4 linked regions of the Homo sapiens genome follow. The protein of the gene in region 4 interacts with the protein of the main gene of each other region in a biochemical or structural test. Each region holds a gene or a part of one and is shown on either strand. Other genes may lie near its edges.

The links.
Region 1: the proteins of RANBP3 (region 4) and RCC1 form a complex in vitro, tested with the Homo sapiens proteins (2 studies listed by BioGRID).
Region 2: the proteins of RANBP3 (region 4) and XPO1 form a complex in vitro, tested with the Homo sapiens proteins (2 studies listed by BioGRID).
Region 3: the proteins of RANBP3 (region 4) and PPM1A form a complex in vitro, tested with the Homo sapiens proteins (one study listed by IntAct).

Annotation. Positions count from the first base shown.
Region 1 is NC_000001.11:28,502,198-28,509,064, reverse strand, and holds the start of RCC1 (regulator of chromosome condensation), read right to left. Parts: upstream 3,023-6,867; 5' UTR 2,981-3,022; intron 2,846-2,980; exon of another isoform or gene 2,738-2,845; intron 1,701-2,737; exon of another isoform or gene 1,494-1,700; intron 938-1,493; 5' UTR 905-937; intron 508-904; exon of another isoform or gene 303-507; intron 236-302; 5' UTR 160-235; exon of another isoform or gene 1-159. UniProt on the Homo sapiens protein: Guanine-nucleotide releasing factor that promotes the exchange of Ran-bound GDP by GTP, and thereby plays an important role in RAN-mediated functions in nuclear import and mitosis.
Region 2 is NC_000002.12:61,486,345-61,493,366, forward strand, and holds part of XPO1 (exportin-1), read right to left. Parts: intron 6,710-7,022; coding exon 6,571-6,709; intron 6,405-6,570; coding exon 6,223-6,404; intron 6,138-6,222; coding exon 5,981-6,137; intron 5,855-5,980; coding exon 5,691-5,854; intron 4,433-5,690; coding exon 4,298-4,432; intron 2,428-4,297; coding exon 2,244-2,427; intron 1,928-2,243; coding exon 1,821-1,927; intron 1-1,820. UniProt on the Homo sapiens protein: Mediates the nuclear export of cellular proteins (cargos) bearing a leucine-rich nuclear export signal (NES) and of RNAs.
Region 3 is NC_000014.9:60,244,253-60,252,230, reverse strand, and holds the start of PPM1A (protein phosphatase 1A), read right to left. Parts: upstream 3,011-7,978; 5' UTR 2,554-3,010; intron 2,070-2,553; exon of another isoform or gene 1,750-2,069; intron 1-1,749. UniProt on the Homo sapiens protein: Enzyme with a broad specificity. Negatively regulates TGF-beta signaling through dephosphorylating SMAD2 and SMAD3, resulting in their dissociation from SMAD4, nuclear export of the SMADs and termination of the TGF-beta-mediated signaling.
Region 4 is NC_000019.10:5,926,129-5,933,150, forward strand, and holds part of RANBP3 (ran-binding protein 3), read right to left. Parts: intron 6,417-7,022; coding exon 6,324-6,416; intron 5,404-6,323; coding exon 5,276-5,403; intron 1,960-5,275; coding exon 1,840-1,959; intron 1-1,839. UniProt on the Homo sapiens protein: Acts as a cofactor for XPO1/CRM1-mediated nuclear export, perhaps as export complex scaffolding protein. Bound to XPO1/CRM1, stabilizes the XPO1/CRM1-cargo interaction. In the absence of Ran-bound GTP prevents binding of XPO1/CRM1 to the nuclear pore complex.

The sequences.
Region 1 (6,867 bases), on a different chromosome or scaffold from region 4:
TTGGGAGGCTGAGGTTGCAGCCAAGATTGCGCCACTGCACTACAGCCTGGGCGACAGAGCAAGACTCTCAAAAGGAGGCATGAAATGCACCTCAATCTTTTGCTCCAAGTCTGCCAAAGATTGTCAAACCCTCCCTGTTAAAAAAAAAAATCAGTTTACCTACTCTCCCTTCTATATAAAGGACCCTAAAATTAAATGTCAATGCCAAAATGCGAAGTGCAGATCGTCTTCTCTCCTAAAAGAAAAGAAATAATGATTAGACTCCTGAAGATCCTACTTCAACTTAAAATCTAGTATACTAGATATGTTTCCTGCATGGTTTGTCTCCCCAGTCATTGTCCACAGGACTCTGGGAAGCTGTAGGAATATGCAGGCGCAGACACGAGGCCCAGCTTCATCTTCAACGTTGTGGAAAGGGACTGTACATCATGGGGCAGAGCCCTAAGCTCCCCTATGCCACTTGGACAGAGCCTGGGGAGAGTGACCTCCCAGGGTATCCACGTTGGAATGCTCATTAGTGAGGAATTGGAGTAACCGACAAATCCAATATTGCTAATCACCCACAGTATTTTCAAGGGCTAGTATCTTTCTCAGCTCAGGCTACACATGTAGATAAAGCCAATTAGGCTTCCTACAGTTCACTAGGGCAGCTTTTACTACTTTGCACTTTTAATGAGCTGACTAAAAAAAGCAATTTTTACAGAACAGAGCATATGTTGAAGTTATGTCAACATGCCTACAAAAATGCAGCAAAGTCGATATTTGGCTATTGCTCTGAGAATGATTAAATGCCTCAGAGGTAAATCCTGACCAACTAGAATAAAAGTCTCTTCAATCCTATTTCCATTACAGAAATCATTGACAAAGAGCTGATAAGCAAAAAACAATTAGCAGATTTACTCACCAAATAAGAGTTACTTGGAATCCTTAACAAATCCTGCAAAACAAGATATTAATCTATTAGTACAGCAAAACCCTAAACTTTTTCAACGAGGGGCCTCATGCTATCGCCTGGGGTTGGAGTACAGTGGCACTGGAGTATAGGTTTGAGTATAGGTCACTCCTGGGCTCCAGCGATTCTCCTTCCTCCAGCTACCTATCATCATGCCTGGCTACTTTTTAGCCAATTTTTCTTAAACATGTATTAAGACTTCAATCCAGCCAGGTGTGGTGGCTCACGCCTGTAATCCCAACATTTTGGGAGGCCAGAGGCTGGCGGATCACAAGGTCAGGAGTTTGAGACCAGCCTGACCAACATGGTGAAACCCTGTCTTTACTAAAAATACAAAAATTAGCCTGGCGTGGTGGCGGGGGCCTGTAATCCCAGCTACTCAGGAGGCCAAGGCAGGAGAATCACTTAGCATAATCACTTGAACCCGGGAGGCAGAGGCAATGGAGTGCGCCACTGCACTCCAGCCTGGGCAACAGAGCGACTCCATCTCCAAAAAAAAAAAAAAAAAAAAAGACTTCAATCCAGATTCAGTGCTCTAGAAGGCTGTTTCCTGCATGGTTTGTCTCCCCAGTAATTGTCGACAGGACTCTGGGAAGCTGTAGGAATATGCAGGCGCAGACACGAGGCCCAGCTTTATTTCCAACGTTGTGGAAAGGGACTTGTACATCATGGGGCAGAGCCCTATGCTCCCCTACGCCACTTGGACAGAGCCCGGGGAGAGTGACCTCCCGGGTGTATCCACGTTGGACAATCAGTGTAACGCATAAATTTACAGAATCCAATAGGAAACAATTTCATCCATTCATGTTACTACAGATCTTAAACAAGAAAGCAAACGAGTTTCCACCCTGTCCACAGTGGGGTGTTAAAAAAAAATCGGTTTCTAGACTGGTAACATGCATATTCAGCTATTCTAATTACTTTACAATAGGCGGTTAGTACTATGTGGAAGGTACCGCAGAAGCAAAGACAACAATTAGGCCCAGCTATCCTAAATTCAAATGAAACACGTGGACTTGTTAATTACCCCCAAATCGGCCAGGCACGATGGCTCACGCCTGTAATCCTAAAAATATAAAAATAAAAATGACCCAAATCACAAAAATACGAGAAAGCATAATTACGAAACGCAATGCTTCCAAATTATGAAAATCTTCGGCCTGGCGTGGCGGACCACAAGGTCAGGCGTTGGAGACCAGCCTGGCCAACATGGTGAAATCCCGTCTCTACTAAAAATACAAAAATAAGCCAGGCGCGGTGGTACACGCCTGTAGTCCCAGCTACTCGGGAGGCTGCGGCAGGAGAATTGCTTGAGCCCAGCAGGCGGAGGTTGCAGTGGTGCGATCAAATAAAAAGAAAAATTGAGAAAATTCTTAAAGGCAAATGAGGATCCAGAATAAAACTGTGTGCAATTATATTGAGAACGACAATGTGCCTACTATGAGGCAGTAAGATAAACAGTGGGGGTGGCGGTGCACCTTCAGAGGCTCGCTGGGTCGGGCGGCAGCCCTGCGGGTCCCGAGGTCTCCATGGCCCACTTCTGGCCCAGGCCCGTCTAACGCGTACTTTAGAGTTGGGACCGATGCCGCCTAAGACACCCATATATAGTTTTAAATTACATGATTTCCGGCCAGGCGCGGTGGCTCACGCCTGTAATCCCAGCACTTTGGAAGGCCGAGGGTGGTGGATCACCGGAAATCAGGAGTTCAAAACCAGCCTGACCAACATAGCGAAACCCCGTCTCCACTAAGAATACAAAAATTGGCCGGGCGTGGTGGCACGTGCCTGTAATCCCAGCTGCTGGAGAGGCTGAGGCACGAGAATCGCTTGAACCCGGCAGGCGGAGGTTGCAACGAGCACTGCAGTCCAGCCTGAGTGACAAACCGACTCCGTCTCAAAAAAAAAAAAAAAGTAAATAAATAAAATACTATATGATCTTCCTAGGGAAGCTCGGCTACTGATCTATAGCATTAGACCCACAACTCCGGTGGCAAGCATCTGATCACACTTACCAAGGATCACACTTACCAAGGAGAAGAAGCGACCACTGCGAATCTGTCTCCAAAAAGGAGAGAGAAAACGCGAAGCATCCTTTTTAAACCTTACGAAGTGCCCGGAAGTCCTGGAATGTCTATTGCGCGTGCGCAGAAGCATGCGCAGTTAGAGAATCAGAAACTCACTGAGGCTTCTGGGAATCTACTGCAGATTGAGCCCCACCCCTTCCTGGCTGGGAGGCCTCTCGCGGTAGTGGATCCTTCCCGCGGGACCTTGCTGGGGAATGTACGTTACAGAAATAGGTTTGTAGGTATGTAGCTGCAGAGGACGTTTACTTCTGTGCAATCACTGGACTCAGTCTGTAGGATATGCCCTTAGATAAACTGGCCAAAAAGTTTTTGGAAGAGTCGAACGCGGTGGCTCACGCCTGTGATTACAGCAGCTCTGAAGGCCGTGAGGGGCGGATCGCTTGAGGCCAGGAGTTCGAGACCGGCCTGGGCATCATGGCGAAACCCCGTCTCTACAAAAAATACAGAACATAAGCCAGGCATGGTGCCGCGCACCTCCAGTCCCAGCTACTCGGGAGGCTGAAGCATGAGAATCGTTTGAACCTGGGAGGCGGTGGTTGCAGTGAGCCGAGATCGCGCCGATGCACTCCATCCTGGTCGACAGAGCGAAACTCTCTCTCCAAATAAATAAGTAAAACGTTGGAATAATAAGAATGCAGAATGAAAAAAATACATATAGAGAAATACGGAGTATCAAAAGGAATTGAATCTGCTCTGTCACCTGTGAAAGAAATAATTTGATAAATGTGAAGGTAAATAAGATGAAAGTGCCCCTAGACGAATCAGATAAAAGTTTAAAAACTCCAGGCCTGGCCCGGATAAAAATAAATAAAAATAAAAAATAAAAAACTCCATTGCACAACAGTGTGAATGAATGTAATTAAAAGCACTGCCCTATACTCTTTCTTTTTTTTTCGAGATGGAGTTTTGCTCTGTCACCCAGGCTAGAGTGGAATGGCGCGGTCTCGGCTCACTGCAACCCCGGCCTCCCGGGTTCAAGCGATTCTCCTGCCTCGGCCTCCCCAGTAGCTGGGATTACAGGCGCCCGCCACCGTGCCTGGCTAATTTTTGTATTTTTAGCAAGACGGGGTTTCACCATCTTGGCCAGGCTGGTCTCGAACTCCTGACCTCAAGCAATCCACCCGCCTCGGCCTCCAAAGTGCTGAGATTACAGGCATGAGCCAGCGCACCTGGACTTTTTTTTTTTTTTTTTTTTTGAGACGGAGTCTCGCTCTGTCGCCCAGGCTGGAAGGAAGTGGTGTGATCTCGGCTCACTGCAACCTCCACCTCCCAGGTTCAACCAGTTCTCCTGCCTCAGCCTCCCGAGTAGCTGGGACTATAGGCATGCCACCATGCCCGGCTAATTTTTGTATTTTTAGTAGAGACCGGGTTTCACCATGTTGGCCAGGCTGCTCTCGAACTCCTCACCTCAAGTGATGCCCGCCTTGGCCTCCCAAAGTACTGGGATTACAGGCCTGAGCCACCACACCTGGCCCCCTATACATTTTAAACTAGTTAAAAATGGCAAGTTTTATGTATATTTTACCACACACAAAACCCTCTGAATATGAAGTAGGCAAGTAAAGAATGCTTACGATATATATACATAAGAAATGTTGCAAATATGATGGAATTTTTAGTGTGGTGTAAGGTGGAAAAACGTTGGCTAGAGAGACAGAGCTATCACAGCTGGGCTATCTTGAGTAGTAACGTTTATGGTGTTCCTCCTACATATTAGATTTTGTTCTGAATGCTTTATTACGTACATTATTTACTATCGCAGCAATTCTTTTTTTTTTTTTTTTTGAGATGGAGTCTTGCTCTGTTGCCCAGGCTGGAGTGCAGTGGCTCGATCTTGGCTCACTGCATTCTCTGCCTCCTGGGTTCAAGCAATTCTCCTGCCTCAGCCTCCCGAGTAGCTGGGACTGCAAGCAAGTGTCACCATGCCCCACCAATTTTTGTATTTTCAGTAGAGACGGGGTTTCACCATATTGGCCAGGGTGGTCTTGAACTCCTGACCACGTGATCTGCCCGCCTTGACCTCCCAAAGTGCTGGGATTACAGGCATGAGCCACCGTGCCCGGCCTACAAATTTTTTTTTTTTTTTAGATGAAGTCTCACTCTGTCCCCCAGGCTGGAGTGTAGTGGTGCGATCTCGGCTCACTGCAACCTCCGCCTCTCAGGTTCAAGCAATTCTCCTGCCTCAGCCTCCTGAGTAGCTGGGATTACAGGCGCCCGCCACCATGCCCAGCTAATTTTTGTATTTTTAGTAGAGACGGGTTTTCAGCATGTTGGTCAGGCTGGTCTTGAACCCCTGACCTCATGATCCACCTGCCTCGGCCTCCCAAAGTGCTGGGATTACAGGCTTGAGCCACTGCGCCCGACCCCGGCCTACAAAATTTTAAAAAAAATGTTAGCTGAGTGTAGTGGCACATTCCTGTAATCCTAGCTACTTATGAGGTGTGAGGATCACCTGAGCCCAGGAGATGGAGGCTGCAGTGAGTCGTGATCATGCCACTGCACTCCAGCCTGGGCAACAGAGCAAGAACCTATCTCAAAAAAAAAAAAAAAAAAAAAAAAAAAAGACATTTCTGATGTAGGGTTTGTCGTCCCACTGGAATTGCAAGGTAAGAGAAGAACTTGAGGATACCAGAGTTTCAGGCTTAGGAGGCTGAACATACTATGGTCTCTAACCTTGATAAGTGGAAATGCAGGCAGTGGGGGAGGAGTAATGTCCACATTGGAGTATATACGAGTTACCTGAGTAACATCTGGTTGTATATAAGTCCAAAGAGCAATTAGATATATGGGGTTGGGCTTCCTGTAAGAAATCTGAGTTGGTGATAAAATATTTAGAAGTTGTAAGAATTAGCATGGTGGCTAAAGTCGTCTTGGAAGAATGAGGAGAGTGATGGGAAGACATGAAACCCCAGCATTTATTTTATTTTGAGACAAGATCTCGCTCTGTTGTTGAGGTTGGAATGCAGTGGTGTGATCAGGACTACTGCAGCCTGGACCACCAGGGCTGAAACGATTCTCTCACCTCAGCCTCTTCTGAGTAACGGGAACTAGAGGCATGCACCACCATGCTCAGCTAATTTTTTAAATTTTTGGTAGAGATGGCCTCTCACTATACTGCCCGGGCTGGTCTTGAACTCCTGGCCTGAAGCGATCTGCCAATCTTGGCCTCCGAAAGTGCTGGGATCACAGGCATGAGCCACCACACCCGGTAAAACACAGCATTCATTTATTTTATTTTATTCATTTATTTTTGGATGGAGTCTCACTCTTGTCACCCAGGCTGGAGTGCAGTGTTGTGATCTTGGCTCACTGCAACCTCTGCCTCCCGGGTTCAAGCAATTCTCGTGCCTCAGCCTCCCAAGTACCTGGGACTACAGGCACATGCCACCACACCCAGCTAATTTTTTTGTAGTTTTAGTAGAGATGGGGTTTCACCATGTTGGCCAGGTTGGTCTCGAACTCCTGACCTCAGGTGAACCACCTGCCTCGGCCTCCCAAAGTACTGGGATTACAGGCGTGAACCATCGCACCTGGCCGAAAACCCAGCATTTAAATGGTGTTCGAGGAAGAAGCCAGCAGCACAGAGAAAGGTCAGTCAGGGAAGGAGAACCAGAAGACAGCGGTGCCTCAGAAGCCAAGGAAGAAGAGTTTTGAGGACTAGAACATTGTCCAAAGCACCAAATGTTGCAAAGCAGCCAAGTGCAATAACCGAAGGCTGAGAAATCCCTGGTGACCACAGGAAAGCCATATTGGTTTGGATTTCGTTTAGATTTTAATGAGCTGAGTGAATATGGCCTTAGGTAGGGAAAACAATGTGCACAGACCAGAGGT
Region 2 (7,022 bases), on a different chromosome or scaffold from region 4:
CTCACAATAAGAAAAGTGAGGCTCAAAATTCAGTGGGTGTCTCCAACTTAGGTGGCAGAATCAGGATTCTACGTATACTGTATATGTAAGATGGCAGCAAGCGAGCCCTCAATACTGTCTTTTTATTTTTGAGACGGAGTCTTGCTCTGTCGCCCAGGCTGGAGTGCAGTGGTGCCATCTTGGCTCACTGCAAGCTCCGCCTCCAGGTTCACGCCATTCTCCTGCCTCAGCCTATCGAGTAGCTGGGAGTACAGGCACCTGCCACCACGCCCAGCTAATTTTTTATATTTTTAGTAGAGACGGGGTGTTTCACCGTGTTAGCCAGGATGGTCTTGATTTCCTGACCTCGTGATCCACCCAACTCAGACTAATGTTTTAATCTAATGAATGCTAACTGGTGAGTATTTTCACAAGCAGAAATAACATCAATCAATTACTCTCAGAAAATAAGAAAGACTATGGATTTCTATTATTTTTTTGAAACTGAATCTTGCCATGTTGCCTAAACTGGACTTGAGCTGGGGTGATTCGCCTGCCTTACCCTCCCTGGTGGTTGGGATTACAGGTGCATGCTACAATGCCCAGTAAGATTTTCATGATTCTAAGTAAACTGAGTTATACTTAAAGAGTAACTTCTTGTTCTTTTTTTTTTTTTGAGACGAAGTTTCCCACTTGTGGCCCAGACTGGGGTGCAATGGCGCAATCTTGGCTCACTGTCACCTCCACCTCTGGGGTTCAAGTGATTCTCCTGCCTCAGCCTCCTGACTTCAAGTGATCCACCCGCCTCGGCCTCCCAAAGTGCTGGGATTACAGGCATGAGCCACCGTGAAAAGCCAAGACAAGGAAAATAAACACAATGTTTCATGTGAACAAATATCCCAAACTTTAACATTAATGTTACAAAAGATGATACCCTTTGTATTATTCCCACTGTGCTCCCGACACGTGCTCAAGCTTCTTGTAAATTACAAACATCACAATTCCTTCAATACATCTTACTTTCTGCTTTCAAATTTTAAATACAGTTCTGTTCACATAATACGCATGTTCAGAACCTTTCGATATTTAGGTTAGCCAACTTAAGTATTCCACAAGAATTATATTCAGAACAAGTTTACTGAAAAGTATTTCCTTAACAAGAAACAATACTGAAATTTCAAAACTATGAAAATAACTAGCACACTTGTAAAAAAAAAAACCAAAAAACAAAAAACCAACACTATTCCAAGTAATAGTAGTATTAGAATTTTTTGGACTCTCCCAAGGCTCAATTGAATAACAAGAATGAAACGATACAGTTAAAACCTAAAACTAATTCACAATTTTACAAGTTGAGGCATACGCAGCTGGTTTTTATTACTGAAAATGATTTCCTTTTCTGCAAATCATTTAGGAAAAAGGGTGTAAAAAAGACTTTCAGGCCTTTAATCTGGGAAGCAATCACTTTGCTAAAGAGGTAAAGTAATGACAACTTTGTAGCTCTAGCAATTGTTCTAAAAATCAAGAGGAATGCAAAAACTGCACCGGTACTCCATTAATTAAATCCTCCTAACCTATCTATGGAAACATAAAATGACCCAATTTTCTTAGCTATCTTGTTACATATCACCACCCTTCGCTACTGATTAACAGCAGTTTCTTTTGAAGATGGAATACAGCTATTAGTATATTAACGTAAGGACTACAATAAATAAAATGCCATAAAATAACCACAAAGTTGATATGCTTTAAATTAGCAAAATGCACATAATAGAGTATAGCATATTCCATAAAACACAGCATCAACACTAGAAATCAAAAGCAAAGCATCTCTCACTTACCATCTGTGGATCATTGGATCGGCTCACCCAACCAGATATTAACTTTAAAGTTTCCCTTTTTACAGTTCGCATACTTCTAATCAATGGTTGCTTTGTAACCATTTCACCTACAAAACAGAATCAAATGGAATCTAATTTTACCACTAAACTTATACAGTGGTACTCAGGTGTACATTAGATGCAATTCCATTTTACCATTAAAAAGTTTAAAGCCAAAAGTTCACAAAATTTATTGGGAAAATAAGCTTTAAGACTAATTTTAAAAGGGAAAGGTACACTTAACTGTTTTAAATATGTCTAGGGTCATTTGGGAAATGGGAGGTCTGATTTAAATCTGTAAAAAACATCAAATGTTTGACTTAAGGCAGTAGAAGAGAAGTGGTTTGTTTATACTGCATTGTGTAAGAAATCAGAATCACCTACCATTAGCTTGGATAGCTGCAGAAATATTTTCACTGAGGCACTTGTATACATTAAGCATATCTAAATAAATTCTTCCAAGCTGAATTACAAAGGGGTGTCCAACAGCTTTGCAGGCTCTCACATTTGTTTTCAAAATGCTACCAAGCTGCTTGACTGTTTCAGGATCTTTCAGTATATCCACATTCTTGGAGGAAAAAAAGCAAATTCCATTTATCATATAAGAATTATCCACGGCTGGGAACAGTGGCTCACGCCTGTAATCCCAGCACTCTGAGAGGCCGAGGCGGGCGGATGATGAGTTCAGGAGATCGGGACCATCCTGGATAACACGGTGAAACCCCGTCTCTACTAAAAATACAAAAAAAATAGCCAGGCGTGGTGGCAGCCGCCTGTAGTCCCACCTACTCGGGAGGTTGAGGCAGGAGAACGGCGTGAACGCTAGAGATGGAGTTTGCAGTGAGCCGAGATCGCACCACTGCACTCCAGCCTGGGCGAAAGAGCAAGACTCCGTCTCAAAAAAAAAAAAAGAATTATCCATCATAATGGCCAGGCGAGGTGGCTCACACCTATAATCCCAGCACTTTGGGAGGCTGAGTCGGGTGCATCACCTGAGGTCGGGAGTTCAAGACCAGCCTGACCAACATGGAGAAACCCTGTCTCTACTAAAAATACAAAATTAGCCAGGCACAATGGTGCTTGCTTGTAATCCCAGCCACTTGGGAGGCTGAGGCAGGAGAACTGCTTGAGCTCGGGAGGCAGAGGTTGCAGTGAGCCGAGATCACGCCATTGCACTCCAGCCCGGGCACCAAGAGTGAAACTCCATCTCAAAAAAAAAAAAAATCCACATAATTACCAAAGCAAAAGCCATTACGCTTCCCTTACCCTAAACCATATTTATAATCCCAAATGGTAAAAACGAACACAAACGCCTTTTTGTCTACATCTACTTAAGAATGAAGTAATATAGTTCTATTTTTTTTTTTTTGGGACGGAGTCTCGTTCTGTTGCCCAGGCTAGAGTGCAGCGGCGTGATCTCGGCTCACTGCAAGCTCTGCCTCCCAGGTTCACGCCATTCTCCTGCCTCAGCCTCCTGAGTAGCTGGGACTTACAGGCGCCCGCCGCCACACTCAGCTAATTTTTGTATTTTTAGTAGAGACAGGGTTTCACTGCGTTAGCCATGATGGTCTCGATCCCCTGACCTGGTGATCCGCCTGCCTCGGCCTCCCAAAGTGCTGGGATTACAGGCATGAGCCACCACACCCAGCCTATTCCTATTTTAATATCAAATGAGAATGGAAATTACAGTATTTTTTTTTTTTTTTGAGACAGAGTCTTCCTCTGTCACCAGGCTGGAGTGCAGTGGCATGCTCTTGACTCACTGCAAGCTCCGCCTCCTGGGTTCAAGCCATTCTCCTGGCTCAGCCTCCCGAGTAGCTGGGATTACAGGCGCCCACCACCATGCCTGGCTAATTTTTGTATTTTTAGTAGAGACGGGGTTTCACCACGTTGGCCAGGATGGTCTCAATCTCCTGACCTAGTGATCCACCCGTCTCGGTCTCCCAAAGTGCTGGGATTACAGGCGTGAGCCACCGAGCCCGGCCCAGATTTTTCATTTATTTTTTTTTTTTTGAGACAGAGTCTTGCTCTGTCGTCTCGGCTAGAGAACAGTAGCTCAATCTCGGCTCACTGCAACCTCTGCCTCTTGGGTTCAAGTGATTCTCCTGCCTAAGCCTCCTCAGTAGCTGGGATTACAGGCATGTGCAACCACGCCCAGCTAATTTTTGTATTTTTAGTAGAGACGGGGTTTTGCCATGTTGGCCAGGCTGATCTCGAACTTCTGGCCTCAGGTGATCCGCCCGCCTCGGCCTTCCAATGTGCCAGGATTACAGGCGTGAGCCACCACACCTCGCCCAGATAATAAATTATAGAAAGACACACATAAAAGCACTTATGGATCACACATACATGTTAAAAGGCTTGAATTCAATACATTTGTAAAGAACACGTCTTGTTAAATCCCATGAAAACTTTTAAGAAAAGGTAGAAATACTTACTTTGGTTGCCTGCTGGATTATACTATCCCACACTTGATTAGGGAGTAACATGTACTTTTCTATCAAGTGTTCTTGTACTGTTTGATCTGTTTGTGCACCAATCATGTACCCCACAGCTTCATAAAACGTATGAACCTATTTTAAAAAGCAGACATTTTAACGTTTATGTTATACACCCTAATAAGGAAAACCACACACAAGCAATTCACAAACGTCTTGAAACTGATTTTGGCCCAGGTGCAGTGGATCACTCCTGTAATCCCAATACTTTGAGAAGCCAAGGCAGGCCAATCACTTGTGGTCAGGAGTTGCAGACCAGCCTGACCAACGTGGTGAAACCCCATCTCTTCTACAAATACAAAGAAATTAGCCAAGCGTGGTGGCAGGTGCCTATAATTCCAGTTACTTGGGAGGTTTGAATTGCTTGAACCTGGGAGGCAGAGGTTGCAGTGAGCCGAGATTGCAATACTGCACTCGAGCCTGGGTGACAGAGGAAGACTCCACCTCAAAAAACAAACAAACAAACAACCCAAACTGGCCAGGCATGGTGGTGGCTCACGCCTGTAATCCCAGCACTTTGGGAGGCCGAGGCGGGCGGATCATGAGGTCAGGAGTTGGAGATGAGCCTGACCAACATGGAGAAACCCCGTCTCTACTAAAAATAAAAAAATTAGCTGGGCGTGGTGGCAAGCACCTGTTAATCATAGCCACTGAGGAAGAGAATCGTTTGACCCCAGGAGGCAAGGCTGCAGTGAGCCGAGATTGCGCCACTGCACTCCAGCATGGACGACAGAGTGAAACTCCATCTCAAAAAACAAACACACACACACACACACACACACACACACACACACACCCCAAAACAAAACAAAACAAAAAACACCTGATTTTGTTTGTTCGGAATAATTTTACATAGGACAACAGCCTAACAATCTTCTGGTCAAGAATCTGTCTCACTATGAAAATTTAACCAGGCTGGGCGTGGTGGCTCACACATATAAAATCATTTTGGGAGGCTGAGGCAAGCGTATCGCTTGAAGCTAGGAGTTCAAGACCAGCCTGGGCCACTTGGCAAAACCCCATCTCTACCAAGGGGGGGAAAAAGGTTAGCTGAGTGTGATGGCAGTGCATGCCTGTAGTCCCAGCTACCCACGAGGCCAAGGTGGGAGGATCACCTGAGCCTGGGAGTTCAAGGCTGCAGTGAGCCGTAATTGTGCCACTGCACTCAAGCCTGGGCAACAGAGTAAGACCCTGTCTCAAGGAAAAAAGAAAGAAAATTTAATCAGAAACACTTCTATTGGATCCAATAGTTGCCCTCCTATTTCCATTGATACATACAGATTGATACAAGTGTTACTTTCTAAAAATAACATATGCTCAGTGCTTAACATACCTGTTGAGGCTGAAGATCACAAATAATAGTGTTAATGTTGTTCAAAATTTCATCAATAAATGGCATCACTTCTCCAACCTGAACCTGAACGAAATGCCTGCGGCATTTTTGGGCTATTTTAATGAAAGTATCACAAGCCATATCCTGGACTCCATCATGGGTCTCTAACAAGACAAAAATATTCATTTATTTTGTCCTGGACTCCATCATGGGTCTCTAACAAGACAAAAACATTCATTTATTTTCTTCAATAAAAATAAAAGCAAAATATAGTAAAGAAAGAGATTTACCATGCATGAATTCGAACAGCTTGTTAACTACAGTCTTCAGAAATTTCCAGTGAGCTCTCAAAAAACGTGGGTATTGACCTACTATGTACATGATATTTGATGCAATAATAGCTTTATTATCTTTGCCTCTTTTCTGTTCACATAATCCTAATAGATCCTGTAAATAAGACAAATTTGTATTATTTATTGTAACAACATAATACTTATTTAGCAATTCTAATTCATACCTATCCCTTGCATACCTTTATAACAGTAACAAGAAATCGTTTTTCGTCCTCTTCATGCATTGCTCCACTAATGGAGCCTATTGCCCAACACAATGTATTCAAATTTTTCCATGACCACTCTGTACCATTCACTTGATTGTGAAGCTTCTCTGTCATTATTCTTTCTGTATCTACATAATCCAGATGAGTAAGATAAACTACAAAGAAAAACATGGTTTCAAATGCAAATAATGAGCAGAATTTTATTGATGAGTAACAATACATTTAGAAAATATTTAGAAACTACAAGTACATTTCCTAAAATGTATTTCCACCCCAGAATAGATTTATAAAGGTAAAGATTAACAGTATTTATTAACTTACCCAATGTTTCCCTCATATTCTTATACAAATTTATGGAATCTGTATCCTTCATGAATTCTCTCACAACTTCTCCTTGATCATTCTCTACAACCAATACTTCCTCTGGTTTAGCCATTCGACTAACCATTAATAAACGGACCTATACTCAACAATATATCAATCAAGAAAAAAATCGTTAGATCACTGAAATCATTAGTGTAGAAGCTTAGTTAAAAACAAACAAAACCAAAAAAACCACAAGCCAGCCATGTGTAGGGATTCATGCCTATAATTCCAACTATTCCGGAGGGCCGAGGCAAAAAGAACTGTTGTGGCCAGGAATTTGAGAGCAGCTTGAGCAACACAAAATGACACCCAATCTCTAAAACAATAAAAATACTGGGGCTTAAAGCACAACAGAAAAAACTATGTAAATATAAATGAAGTAAAACTAAAAAATTTAAAATTTGCTA
Region 3 (7,978 bases), on a different chromosome or scaffold from region 4:
CCTTGTGGACATATGCCACTTCTTGGTTAAAAATTACAAATATGCACGCACAGTTAAACCAAAATCAGCTGTACATTCTATTAGCTATTAGAGTAAACAAATGGCCTAGATGTAATCTGAACAAACTAAAAGACTATAGGTATTTAGTGACTGCTCAGCAATATTTACCACATGACAAAATGATGTTGCTATAGATTTCTTTCAAAAACAAATGAGGTATTAGAGAATTTTCAAAGGTTTAACAAGACCCAGCTTGAAGTGACAGAAAAAACCTTCATAATGTGTTTTTATAATGTCCTTCACATCAGACTACCAAGGGTCCTGTGCTTGTTCAAACCTGTAGTCTCAACCACCCTTTGTCTCCCATGAAATCTCCATCCTCCTTCCTCTCAAGAGTTTCCCTACACATCCCAATCCCAAAAGAAAAATCAATAGCTTACAAGAACACAAGAACAGCTTTTCTAAAGAACCATCACCAACTTAGAATTTGTTAAATAAAACAGAACCGAGAAAGAAATCCAGCCTTAGAACACTGAAACATCTAAGTGCCTGACACATAACAGGCATTTATTTGGCAACGGTATGTTGACTAGACACACAATATTGATAAAAAAAAATTTTTAAATGTAGTAACTGGACAGTACATGTGATAATATAATCTGCCCAACTGGCTTTACTGATTTGGAAGCTGAAACTCAAAAGGTTAAAGGACTTGTCCATGGACACAGATATTTTGGAGCACAGCCATGACTAAACAATCCTTGTCTCCTACTGCACTGTTCCCTTCAACAGGTCATATACCTCAGCCCCTCATGTAAAAAGATACAATATGTACACAAAATACATAAAAAGATACAAGCCAAATAAAAAGCAATTTGATGACTATTATTTCTCAAATATAATTGAGGTAGTTAACTTCAAACATTATCAGTCTTAATACACCTTTCCCATAATATAATTACTTCACCGATCTAAAAATGTTTTATGATATCAAATTAAAATGTCTTAGGCAACTGCCATGTGCAGGAAGTTCATTATAGTTTCAATAATGTGGTACTGCTGTAAACTTCCAGGTTAAAAGTAATCATCCTTACATGACTGAAAGTTTAATCAGATACATATAAGTTACACATAACAAGAACAAAACTATAACACTAGGAAATGTTACTTTGTGCTTCAAATTATTTATTGGTAAAGAAAGCATTAAGTCAGTAAAAGCAGCATCTAAGAATAGAGAATCTCCTTATTTTCAATTTTCTCATTTGTAAAATAAGGAGTTACAGAAATACAATCTTTGGAAAAGGCCCAATATGTAGCAAGATAAAAGTATAAAAGTAAAGTGTTTCAAAGAGAGTTGGGGACCAAGCTATGCTAAATTCCCAAGTGCTCTGGAACCCTAAGTCTCAGCAGAGTAGTGTTTCAACAAATCCCTCCACTTTTCGGAGCGCAACACATGTAAAGTGGTTGTGTTTAAAACCCCAACGTGCAAGTTTGAAAAGACTGTTTTACAAAACAATTGTTAAAATGTCTAATTTCTCTCAATAATGTCAAAATCATTTCCTTTGAGAAAATGATACCTATCTCTCATACTCTTCCAACCACTTCTTAAAACACATTCAGCTCATTATTCCAATGAGCAGGAAACTTGCGGGGAGGTGGGGCTAGCACACAGATCCCATGGCTTGGACAACTGAAGCATGACTTTTGTGGATTTGTACCATGTGGTGTTTCAGGAGAGAAGAAAAATACCTCAGGTGATGAAATTTTCAAAACGTATCTAAAACTGCAGTTGGTAGAAGGCTCTCCACAGCCAGCTGTCTTTCAAGAAAAGGCTCCAAGTTTATTTAAAATCTACAAGCAGAACAGAACCATACCTCAACCAAGCTCTAACATCAAGAAGTTTTACCCGATTTACGTAGTTAAAAGGATAAGAAATCGGAATTTACTTCAATGGATTTGTTCGATGCCTTAATAATGAATGAACTAGAGGCATCACTCACTGACTTGAGTTCTGAAGGAGTCTCTCAGCCCTGCCCCCTGTAAAACCTTAAGCAATTTCTACAGAATTAGGTTTTTCGAGGCTAAGCCCGGTTCAAAGGAAGTCTCCCCGCCTCCCTCCCAGGGGCTGAAGCCCAGGACAGCCGGGGCGGCGCGCCCGAGCGGGTGGGGGCGCGGGGACGCCCCCTCCCCGCTCGGGAAAAGTTCTGCAGGCCGCTCTCCGGCCAGGCCGGCCTGCGGCCGTCGCCTGCTTCGCCGCCACAAACACCCATCTCGGCCGCGGACGGCCAGAGGGTCGCGCCCCCTCCCCGCGCCACCGCAACTAACACCCCGCCCCCGCCTCCCCGCCACCGCCCTCGCCGAGCGTTAACCCCTCGCCGTCCGCCGCCCGGCTCGGGGGAGGAGGCCGGCCAGGGGGTGGAGTTGTCGCGTCTCCTCCCGGGAGCGCCCGGGCAGACGCCCGGCTTGTTTACAGGCCCCAGGCCTGCCCGCCGCCGCCGCCGCGCAGGCCCGCACCGCCCGCCAGCCCGCCGTCGGCCCGAGCGCCGCACTTACCCGGAGCAGCCGCAGGCGGGCAGGTCCCTGGTCGGCCGAGGCGGCGGCGGCGGCAGCCGGGGAGGGGGTCACCGCGGCGGCGACGGCGGCAGCCGGGGGAGGGGTCACCGCTGCAGCGGCGGGCCAGGTCAGGCTGGGGAAGGGGCGGAGGAGGGGAGGAGCCGGGCTGCGTCCGGGCCCCCGGCTGTCGGCGCCCTCGCGGCTCAGATCATCCGGGCGTTGGAGAGGGAGGCAGAGAGCGGGTCCCGGAGAAGGAGGAGGAAGAGCCGAGGACTCATCGCTTTCGCGCCTCAGCTGTCTAGAGTCCCCCCACCCCCCCCTCCCCAACCACCCGTTCCGGAGCAACAGCCGCCTGAGGACCCGAAGCTGCGGGCCGGACGAGCGCCGAGACCACTGCTCTCTAGCTCCCGCGCGCGCTCCCGTCCCTAGCGCCGCCACCGCCGCCGCCGCCGCCTCTAGCGCGGCCCCGCGCAGGCGCGCTCACGACCGCGTCGCCCCTCCCCCACCCCTCCGCTCGCCCCGCCCCGCTGGCTCCGCCGCCGCTACAGCTGCGGCGCGGCGCGCAGCTACAGAGACCCGGATGTCGTTGGGCAGGAACTGCGGTGAGGGCTGGCGGGCGGGGGAGGGGCCGCCACAGATGACGTCACTGCCTTACCCAGCTTCTTTCTCTGCCGCTGCTGCTGCCGCCGCCTTTGCCTTACGGCCTGGAGCACCAGGCCGAAGCCGAAGGGAGCGTCCGGATCCCGGATAGCAGCCAGGACCCGGGCCTTCACGTTCCGGCGCCAGGGACTGGACAGAATGTGCGGCTATTAGGTGCCCAGTAGATCGACAGCCCCTCCGTGCCGGCCCTTGGCCAAGTAGGGACTCGGAAGCTACCCCTACGGCGTCCGCGCCCGGAGCCCTGGCTCTTCTACCTGCCTGCAGATACAAACCCCACTCCCTGCGAAGATGGTGTACACGCAGCCCCGAGCACAGACCCGAAGCTGTCCACCCTTCTTGGGCGCCGTCGCGGTCTGGCCGCTGCCCTTCGAACCCATGGTGGGTCCCAGGCAGCTGCCAGACCCCCCTACCCCAGAGTCCCACTCCTCCAGAGCCTTCCTCTCCCAGTGACCCCAGGAAGCCCAAGCAGGTGCCACGGCCACACACCTCGCGACCCAAAGGGCAGAGACACAAGCACGCTACCACCGCCCACCAATGTGCGAGTGCAACTGATTCACGCACGGGGCACATGCTCTGAGTTTCTGGCAGGTTTTCCCTCTATAGTTCAGGGGATTCCACATTGTATTTATTTGCACATGTTAGATAATCACGTGGTTCTGTCCCAGGGGACCTCCAACGACCTCCAATGAGGTAGGTTAAGGGAACAGGATTTTTCAAAATCAGGAGAATAATCAGAAACATAACAGCTGCTTCTATTAAGAGGTAGAGATGAGCTAAAGTTAATAGAAACTGCACGTGCCAGCGGCCAAAATCCAGTTTAGCTAGCTGGAAAACCCGACCCACGCTGCTTGCAGACGCCGGGGATAGAATGACAAACCCTAGGCAGCCAATGAATCGCAGCCTAGGAGCAGTACATCACCAGCACGGGTTCCCATTGGCTGGGGTGCCCTTCCCTCTCTTGTCAGCGGCTTAACCAGTTCACGAATTTGACCTACACCACATTCGCAGGAAAAGAAGTTAGAAGAAAAGTCCGTATTTTTAAAAGATGTTCTGATGCACACACAAACCAAAGACTTCATTGTAGAAGGCAGGTTCTTTTACTGGCCAAATTGAGTTCTGGCCAGTAAAAAAGGTAAATTTATGTTGAAGGCCTCTCTATTTTACTTGAGGAGCTCACTATAGCAATTTGCACCCTACTACTTTCTATCTCCTAAACCATTTTGTTGCCCCAACTCTTAGATCAAAAGCAACCTATTTATTCTTTCTGGCATTCAGCAAATATTTAGCTGCTGCTTTTAAAGTTGTAAAAAGCCATCTCTAATTTTCTCAACATGACTTTGGGGAAGGTTCTGTTTCCTTCACTTTTTTTTTTTTTTTTTTTTTTTTTTTTGAGACAGAGTCTCGCTCTTTCATCCAGGCTAGTACAGTGGCACAATCTCGGCTCACTGCAAGCTCCGCCTCCCGGGTTCATGCCATTCTCCTGCCTCAGCCTCCCGAGTAGCTGGGACTACAGGCGCCTGCCACCACGCCTGGCTAATTTTTTTGTATTTTTAGTTCAGACAGGGTTTCACCGTGTTGGCCAGGATGGTCTCGGTTTCCTGACCTCGTGATCCACCCTCCTCGGCCTCCCAAAGTGCTGGGATTACAGTCGTGAGCCACTGTTCCCGGCCAGAATTCCTTAGAAGATGATCGTGGATCATTTCCACATATACAAAATAAAAATAAAATTCACTATGCATTTGGTCTCAGTATCATCTGAGGATACATTTCCTAATTCTCCACATATCTCCCCGACCCCCCAAAAAAAGAAATTAGATCAGAGATCTTTGAAACGCTACCTTCTTGGAATCCTTAATACTCCAGGCAAGTAACAGCATGAGTAGCATGCTGGTGGACTCATTAACATTCTGAACTACAAAAGCTCATATGGCAACCATTTAGAGTGCTCTTAAAAGACAAATTTTCTTATTTATAAGCAGAAGCTGGGTCACTAGTGACGGTAGTGGACCATAGAAAACTTGAAATGCCTGCCTATCTTTCTGCTTCCTTCCTTTAGGCTTCCACACCTTTCTTCTCTCTGTTCTGCACTTGGAGAATCTGGGTCAATTGTAGAAGAAGAGGGAGAGAAATAGAAAATATGAACAGAAAGAAATTTTTAAGGAGTCTACGCATTGTACAGACTGCCGATAAAGCAGCACCTTCCTACTATTTATTTCTGAATACAGCTTGCAGGGACATTTTGGTATGAACTAGGAAACTCATGGGTTATAAGATTAATATTTTAAAAAGATATCAATATTGTCTGATTAAATATGTTTAATATCATCATATCCCCTTTTATTAAACCTTATGCTAAGAAGGGGGGACAGATAGAAGGGGAAAATAACATTGAAAAAAGAGGATTGAAAGTTCTCTTCTGAACTGTAAGACTTTGCCGGGCCTCTACACATATTTGGGATGTTCACAGTAAGATTTTAGTGGGAATATATTGCCATGATGATGACATTTTAGTAATTTTTATAGGTATATTATAAAACTATCCTGCTCTGCTTTGGAAATCTGTTTATATTTCAATTAACAAAGAAAAAGATTATCTACAAGATTGGCTTTAAAGTCCTGAATTTAGTGTGTGTTGATAGCCTAGTAATTGGGAGGCTTGGGGTGAGGACAGGGGCTGTAGTGTGGAGTCTAAAGCTTAATCTGATCAGCAATACTCTCTTTCCCTTTCCACCACAATTGTGACTTAAAAAAAGGTTTACATTCCTGCTCCCAAATTACTCTCCAGGAGAGTCACCCTTGAGGCAGACTTGCCTGGGCCTCTCAAAATATATGCAGTAATGTAAATGACCCCCTCAGGAGGCTAGTATTTGAGAATACCCCTCACCATCCTTTTCCACTGAAGCCAGTCACTACTCAAGAGTTAGAAAGCCAACCAGAACATAGGTTCAACAATTCCTTCCTCCCTCACTACCTGTTTCATATTTTTTTCTCTCACACATCCTCTTCATTTGGTTTCCTCTTTTCTCATTTCTCCTTCTCTCTCCTCCCTTTTTCTTCTCTTCTCTTTTTGCCTTCTTTGCCCTTCTCTTCCCCATTCTTCTTTTCTCTCTTTTCATTAGCTTAGTACAAATTGTAGCTTCTGCTACCCATTTTCTCCCAGAACAGAACATGCGAGCAGACAGTGCCCCTAAATGAATTTCATTCAGGGAGAGGGTGTGCCCCCTACCCTGGCCCTCCTTCCTCCCTCCCCTACATCATAATACATTATGAGAAACTTAGCTGCTTAGAGGACTGTTACAGAATCAAAAGGATTAGAGAATCCTGTCCTGTGTGACATCACTGGGCAGCCCCATTAGGGAGGGGCAGAGGGGAGCAGCCAGCAGTCTTATGCTACCACTGTGGCTCATCCTGCGACCTGAGAGAAACCTGGGCAACTGTGAGCACCAGAGGCCAAGTCCTGGACAGTCTTTAGGGTAGGCTTTCACCTCAAGATAGCCATATATGGCCACAGCCTTACAATACTAGAGTGGATCTTGTCAGATAAGTTCATCTGTTCATGAGATAGCTATTGTGCACCAAGCACTGTGTGGGACACTGGAGGTAGATAATGACATCAATGGGCAAGCCCTGCCCACAAAGAGCCAACATAATAATAAGAGGCATAGACAAATAAGTCAGCAGATAGAAAGGAAATTGCATACTGTTATCCATGCTGTGAAGAAAATAAATAAGGAAACAGATCCGGGAGACGACTTGAAACAGGTGTTCAGTGCAGACCTCTCTAAGAAGGCAGCATTTGATCTAAAGGATGAGAAGGAGTCAGCTTCATAATCAGGGGAGAACTTTCCAGGTAGAGGGGTCAGCATGGGCAAAGGGCCTGATGTGGAAAAGAGCTTGGCAGAAAAGAGTTTCTTACAGCCCAAAGACAAGTTCAGCAAACTCAAGGCAAATAGTTTATGGTCATTTAAGTTTCGAGAGTGTTTCAACGTGGACATTAGGGATATTTAATTTATAATCAGGAAACTACATTATGTGCACGGGTATAATCCATAGAAAATAACTTGGTGAGTTGGTCTGGTGCAAAAAGCAAAGCAACTTTTTTAAAAATTGAAATTAAAAATAGTCTGGGTGCAGTGGCTCACACCTGTAATCCCAGCACTTTGGAAGGCCAAAGCGAGTGGATCACTTGAGGCCAGGAGTTCAAGACCAGCCTGGCCAACATGGGGAAACCCCGTCTCTACTGAAAATACAAAATTAGCCACACCTGGTGGCACACGCCTGTAATCCCAGCTACTTGGGAAGCTGAGGCAGGAGAATCGCAGGCAGGAGAATCACTGGAACTCAGGAGGTGGAGGTTGCAGTGGGCCGAGATCATGCCCCTGCACCCTAGCCTGCATGACAGAAAAAAAAACACCTTTATTCAACTATTGAAATTGAGAAGTATTCCATAACTCCAGGAAAGACCCGTCAGACAATCCAGCAGCAGCTAGAAAAGAGTGAATTATAAGCTTCAAATAAATAGTTTTCATCCCAATATAGGTACCTATTTGTGCTAAGTAAAGACTAGCACAGATTTGAGTGGGCTTCTTCAGAACAATTCTTCTGGGTGTTTACTGTCTATCCTGGGCATTACAGAAGATCTCAAACTAAACCATACTTTTGAAAGCAGCGACACACTGCATCCTTAACAATGGTGGCCTGGTTGAAAACAGTAATGAAATTGTCATCATCATAAAGCCTTTTATCTGAACCTGACTCTGCAGTT
Region 4 (7,022 bases):
TCCTACCAGCTGCTATGCTGAGTCTGTCAAATGCACGATCTGCTTTAATCCTCACGAGGCCTGGGAGGGGGATGTTAGGGACCCTGTTTGACCAACAAGGAAGCAGAGGCTCAGAGGGTTAAGAAACCATGGCTCTGGCTGGGCGCGGTGGCTCGTGCCTGTAATACCAGCACTTTGGGAGGCTGAGGCGGCGGGGAATCACTTGAGGTCAGGAATTCGAGACCAGCCTGGCCAACATGGAGAAATCCCCACCTCTACTAAAAATACAAAAAATTAGCTGGATGTGGCAGTGGGCGCCTGTAATCCCAGATATTTGGGAGGCTGAGGCAGGAGAATCGCTTGAACCCAGGAGGTGGAGGTTGCAGTGAGCAGAGATCATGCCACTGCACTCCAGCCTGGGCGACACAGCAAGACTTCGTGTCCAAAGAAAAAAAAAGAATCCATGGCTCAAGTTTGCCCTGGAAGGAGAGGCTGGGATTTGACTGAGACTGCGAAGTGCACGTAAGCCTCTGACTTCTGCAAGAAGCCAACCCCACCAAATTCAAAGCAGCTGTCTCCCCAGACTCAAGGCAGAGATTCCACAGGGCCTGAACTCCACAGGCCAAGCCCTTCCCCGCCTCTTGCCCTCCCTCCTTGGAGGGAACAGCCCCTGAGGGACTCATTATTTTGCCTAAAGCCATGGCAACAGCAACATCAACTTTCCACGTTTCTCGACTTGGGCTTCTGTTGGACGGTGAGTAACAGAAAGGAAAGCAGAAAACACAAGCCGGTGCTTTCTGCATGCTAGAGAGGTTTTTGTTTATTTCAGGGCCCTCCCCGTCGACACTACTGACATGTTGACACTGGGCCCAGAACATTCCCTGTGGTGTGGCTATCCTGGGCACTGCAAGGGGCGGAGTGGCATCCCTGACCTCCAGAAGTACCTCCCAGTTGTGACAACCACAAAAGTCTCTAGACACAGCCACCGATACCGCCTCTCGAGCTTTGAAAGAAGCTTCTTGCCAGTGGAGCTGCTAGAGATGCCGTAGCACATTCCATGTCTGTGGCTGGGAAAGGTGGTGCTGGCTGACCCTGGTCTTCCTAGAGTCCCAGTGCATGGTCCAGGGCCACTGTTTCCAACCACTGCCATCCCTTCCCCACCACACAATCTCCAAACTAGGACCACATGTCTGGAGGGCAGCCAAGAGGTGGCAGACGCTTTGCTCCCTTTCAGGAGAGAAGACAGTGTTGTCACCCCACCCTGCCCCACTTAAAAAAAAATAAGGTGACAGTTCTTAATGGGGGCGATTCTACTCCACAGGGAATACTGGCCACGTCTGGGGACATTTGTGGTTGTCAGATGTCAGGAGCATTGGGTGGGTGGAGGCCAGTGATGCTGCTCAGCACCCTGCAGTGCCCAGGGCGACTCCTCAGAAACTAAGAATGGTCCAGCCGTAATGCTGCTAGTGCTGAAACAGAGAAACCCTGAAATACGGGAACAGAAACCTCTGGGCAGAGCTGAGAACACTGGACCGTGCTGTCTTTCTTCTCTGCTATGAAAGCCTGAGGCCTCAGGTTCAGTCACCTTCCCTGTCCCCGCTACCATGAGAACCAGGGACCCTGACTTGAGAAGTCACTGCAGGTGAGGGCTCCGAAGCCTGGGCTGCTGGTGGGGAAGTGCCAGGGCCCAGCACACGCACACCAGCAGCAGACTGTGCCGTGAGCCATGGGGCTGCCTCGCTAACACCTTCTTTGTCCCACGCTCCCCTCCCCTGTTAAAAGGAAAATCTACCTACTTGCCTGCTGTTGAACCTGGGGAAGGCATAAAAAGTCAATGTGCTGGTTCAACAGCTCACATACCTTAACTCTGTCCCTCAAGTTCTGCCCAAATACAAAGGCTTGCTGTGTGGCGGGGTCTTTTTTCTCACAGGCTTCCTCTTCAGAGGCATTGCTGGACTCATTTTTCTGGGGCTCTTTCTCCTATCAAAAACCAAAACAAAACAGAGTAATCAAAACCAGTGCCACACTTGGCCCAGACGGATGCCCAGCAATCCCACACCAGATCATGTACTCCACACGTCTCCTCTGCATGTGCCTGCACTCCCAGCTACTCAGAAGGCTGAGACAGGAGGACTGCTTGAGCCTGGGAGTTGTAGTGAGCTGAGATCACACCACTGCACTCCAGCCTGGGTGACAGAGCAAAAACCTGTCTCCAAACAACAAGAAACACCTGTGCCCTGCAGAAGCCTTAGTGCCGGCAGAGGACAGGAAATAACCTGGTTGCTCATCATTGGCCAAGGAATGAAATAATTTACAATAGAAAATATGGGGGAAAAAAAGTACAGCACAGCTATTACCACCGAGAGGGAGGTAGGCCTCTGACATGCCCACAATACATGGATCAGAGAAGAGAGCAGCTTGTGGGACACGGAAGTGCGATTCCATTTCTGTTAAAGCCAATCCAGTCCCGTGTGTGTGGTGTGTGTGTGTGTGTATGTGTGGTGTGTATGTGTGTTGAGGAATGCCCAGGAAAATAAGTCGGGAGAGAGAATTCAAACTACTGACGGAGGTTACCCGGGAACCTCTTAGCTGGAGGGTGGCTCCTGCTTGTTACTTTCTAGGATTTCCATTTTGTGTAAATATTTTCAACATGTAGGCATGACTTTTTTGTAACTAAATATCCTAAGACCAAATGCATTTATCTTGAGATAATGGAATATGGAGTTGCTAGTAATTTGTATATGTCTTTCCTATACCACATGATGAAAAAGGTGTTGTAGAATTTGAAAAGAAATTTTAAAAGGCTTTTGGCAGATCTTTGGAGTCTCTGGCGATGTGTACAGTGGACATGAACGTGAGGCAGGGAGTGTTTTCCTGGGAGATGTCGTGAAGGGACCTGACAACCGTGAACTCGGAGGTGAGAAAGGCTGCAGGCAGCTTCTGACTGGCTCAGCGTGTCCAGCGGGCAGGGAAGCCTGGAGTTACAATGCCAGGCCCAGAATCAGCGGATCACAGCGCTGAGGGCACTTTCTGGTCCAACTGTGAAGGAAGTGAAAAGTGTAAATGTTTCTCTACTGTGCTCCCTAGAAATTCTGCTACTGCTGACTTCACGCTGCATCCTTGTGCCTGTGCAAGAGTGAACGTGGCTTTTTAAAATTAAACACACAACGTGTTTGGCGACCTGGAAGTCCTCAGAGGATGGGCTAATCCCCAGCCCCACTGGGGCCGCCTGCATCCCGTCCAGCAGAAACACTCCCTGGCTCTTGGCTTTCTGCGCTGTGTGCCCCCTGCTCACACCGACTGGTGCTAATCCCGGGTGGGTGGAGCCCACAGAGTCACCTGAGATGGGGCAGGCAAACAGCAAAATGTTTCTGACTACAGGGTATGTCTATGACCTGGCGGAGCCTGCTTAGAGGATTCGCTTAAACTGATAAACGAATCCCGAGGCCTGTAACCAGTCTGAGACTCTGTGTGTGTGTGGGGCGGGAGGGGAAGCCTCTTCCCCACTTTCCCAAAGACGGTACCAGGAGTTCCCCCATGGGTCGCCCCCAACATCTAAGCCCTCCTTAGAGGAGATGCCTCATAGCTCACGTTCCCGATGAGCAGTGTGTGCCATGTTCATGGGCGGCTTGGAAAAGCTCGGACTCCTGCTGTAGGGCCAGAGAAGGATACACACAGCGAGCCTGGCGAATCTCAACAGTACTGGGTGTGGTCAGAGGGCAGCGTGGGTGTGGCCGCATGGCTCCACCCCAGACCCACATGGAGCAGTGGCTTTGGAGCCAGACGCAGGAGCTGGGAATGGCAGCCAGCACATCACAACTTCTGAGCTCAACCATTTGGGAACAAGCTGTGTGCACTGCTGAGAAGGGGCTGGAACCGGCAGGAAGACGGACTCCGTCCCCTGGGATGGGACACAGCAAGGCCTCTCCAGTGAGGAACAAGCTCTCGGTAGCGGGTGCTACCAGGTCAGCCTGTGCACTCACCATCGGGGACAATCAGAGACACTGGGAGATGGCGGGACGGGCTGGGTCACTTCTAAGTCCTTCTCCAACTCAGAACTGCACACCTGATCTGCTCAGGAGACCTCAGCAGTCAAAGCTTCCAAGCCGCAGAATGCGGTGGAAATGATCCCTATTTCCAATTCAGCAAACTCGTTTGAAAAAGGGCGTGAGGATGTTTTCAAATTTAATTGTGGACAGCCATTTTCACCCTTTGAGCCAGAACATCTACTGGGGATGGAGGGTATAAAACTGCAGGCCATGGACACAGAGCGGAAAATAAACACAAAGATCCAATCTGGCTTTTACACAGAAGATACCACATGGTGTTACCCTAATTCTGACTTCAAACCCATCTCTGCCAACTTCAAAGGAGGCTCTTCATCAAAGGCCCTTATTTCACAGTGGCTGTGAAACACAAAGCTTTTGGCCCATATAATCCAAACCATACCCCCGCTTAAATGGAACTATTTCTTTTTTTAAGGCAGGGTCTGGCTCTGTCGTCCAGGCTGGAATGCAGTGGTGTGACCTCGGCTCACAGCAGCCTCCCCTTCCCGGGCTCAAGCAATCCTCCAGCCTCAGCATCCTGAGTAGCTGGGACTACAGGTACATGCTACCATGCCTGGCTAATCTGTGTATTTTTTGTAGAGACAGAGTCTTGCTATGTTGCCCAGGGTGGTTTTGAACTCCTGGCCTCAAGCAATCCACCTGCCGCGGCCTCCCAAAGTGCTGAGATTGCAGGTGTGAGCTACCGTGTCCGGCCTAAACAAACTATTTCTGAGATGACTCCCAAAGAAAAATTTTCAACTGGAACCACACAGATAGGAGTCTCTGAGGGGTGGTTTGGGTGTGGACACAGAGAGGGGAGACATTCCTCATGTTAAACATTGCAAGACACCCATCAGTGACAGCCGTTCCTCGGGCCCTAGTGACTCCTCAGAGTGCAGTGGTTCAGGTCCTCCCTCAAGGATCACTCCCGTGAGACATGTGGCGGTCAGCCTTGGGTAACAGGCCCTTCCGGCAGAACTCTGGGCAACAGGTCCTTCCGGCAGAGCTTGCTTGGGAGACACTCTTCTTCTGCCTGACCAGCAAGACCACCCTTGGGAATCTAGATCTGGTTTGTCAGGTACTGTTATTTAGAGCCTACTGAGCAAATCCAGAGAGCCTTACAATAGGCCCACGTGGAAACTGCTTGGAACAGGTGACAGCGTGTGGACTCCACAGCATGCTGGGAAGGCTGCCCTCCCGCTCCCAAGGGGCCTAGCATGCAGCGCTTCCCTGCCTCAGGACCCACTGACCTCAAGTGCACACACCTCATCGGCAGCTTCGGAAGGACTTCTCCATGCAGCAGTGTCAGGGGATGCTGCGGGCACTGCCCCCGTGCAGTCTGCTGGGAGGCTGACCCCGTTGGTGCCACTGCTGGGGACTGTGGGAGGGAAGGAGAGTGGGGAATCACAGGTGCTTGGCGGCCCTCCCACCCCCACTCACATAGCTGAGGGGCTGGGCCACGTCTAGTCTAGGGCCCCTCCCATGGTAAAGCCCACAGCACATGTCTCCTTTTTAAGGAAGGACCTGGTATCTCTACAAAGAGCCAAAATTCTTGGATTTAAAAAAAAACAAGAGAAACAAACAAAAAAGAGAAACCTGCCGGGCACAGTGGCTCATGTCTGTGGTCCCAGTGCTTTGGGAGGCTGAAGCGGGGAGAATGCTTGGGGCCAGGAGTTTGAGACCAGCCTGGGCAACACAGCAAGTCCTCGTTTCTAAAATAAGATAAAACAAACTGGCTGGGTGTGGTGGTGCACACTTGTGGTCCCAGCTACTTGGGAGGCTGAGGTGGGAGGATCGCTTGAGCCCAGGAGTTCGAGGCTGCAGTGAGCTATGATTGCACCAGTGCACTCCAGTCTGGGTGACAGAGCAAGACCCCATCTCCAAAATAAATAAATAAATAAATAAATAAAATGACCTTTCAAGTTTTTAAAGATAACCTGTGAAAATTGAGGCTGAAATTCTATCTGCAAACACACAGGGATAAATCTCATTCCCAGGAGCCGGCCTGCTTTTATGAAGACAGTGAATGAACAAAGCAGGTTTCACCCACACAGTCACACTCAGCCGAGAGCTGTGAGGAAGCTGTGGAGCCGCCTCTCCCTTCTCCGTTGCCAGGGCTCAGGAGGCTTGGGGCTGGAGACGGCTGGGGGGTGATTTAAAGGATCATCTTCCCTGATCTCTCTGTATTTCTGGTGCATTCAGCAGTCACCTCTGTCGCAACACTGCTGTCCCGGGTGCGACTTCGGGAACGCTCTACCCTGCCGTCTGGGCCTGGGCGCCAGGGCTGCTGTTTCTTACCAGTCTGGGACAGCGCCTTTGGCTGCGGAGCTTGTAACACTGCCGGGCGAAGCACGCTCCGCTGCTGCTCCTTGGGCTTCTGGCTTGGCAGACCTAGGAACAGAAGGCGGCCTTCCCAGTGCCCGTGGACCCCTGCCTGCCCCCAGGCGCTTCAGAGACTGACCCCTGGCATCCCATTTCATGCCCCTTGCAGGCTAGACTTTGCAGGGAAGCACTTTTTTAAAAACTTGAGGTCTTTTTTTAACAGCTGGCCAGGAGATCTGGCTACTGTTATTTTTACATGTGATTACATGAAACTCCCAGTGACCGACGCCTGTGAATTAATCCAGTTAGCACAGTAACGTGGCGGGGCGCCGGCAGACTCAACAGTCAAGTGGAGACTGTGGGAGGAGAGCAGTGCATTCACAGGCAGCTACCTGGAGGCTCAGGACTCGGTGTGGGGTCACGTACAGGCACATTTTGCACCTGTTTTTCAAAACAGCCATGCTGAGGAAGTCCCTCTGCCAAAGGCAGATGGGACAAGGACCCTTGCATGTGCCCTGCCCTGTGCAGCATCCCCGGCAGCCTCACTAGCAGCCGGCTCACTAGCAGCGCGCCGCTGGAATGCAGCCACCCTGCTAACTGGGGCGAACACTGTGGTATGTGGGGGCCAGAACATGAAGGACAGACAGGCTGAACCAAGTGCGCTACTGCTGGGCA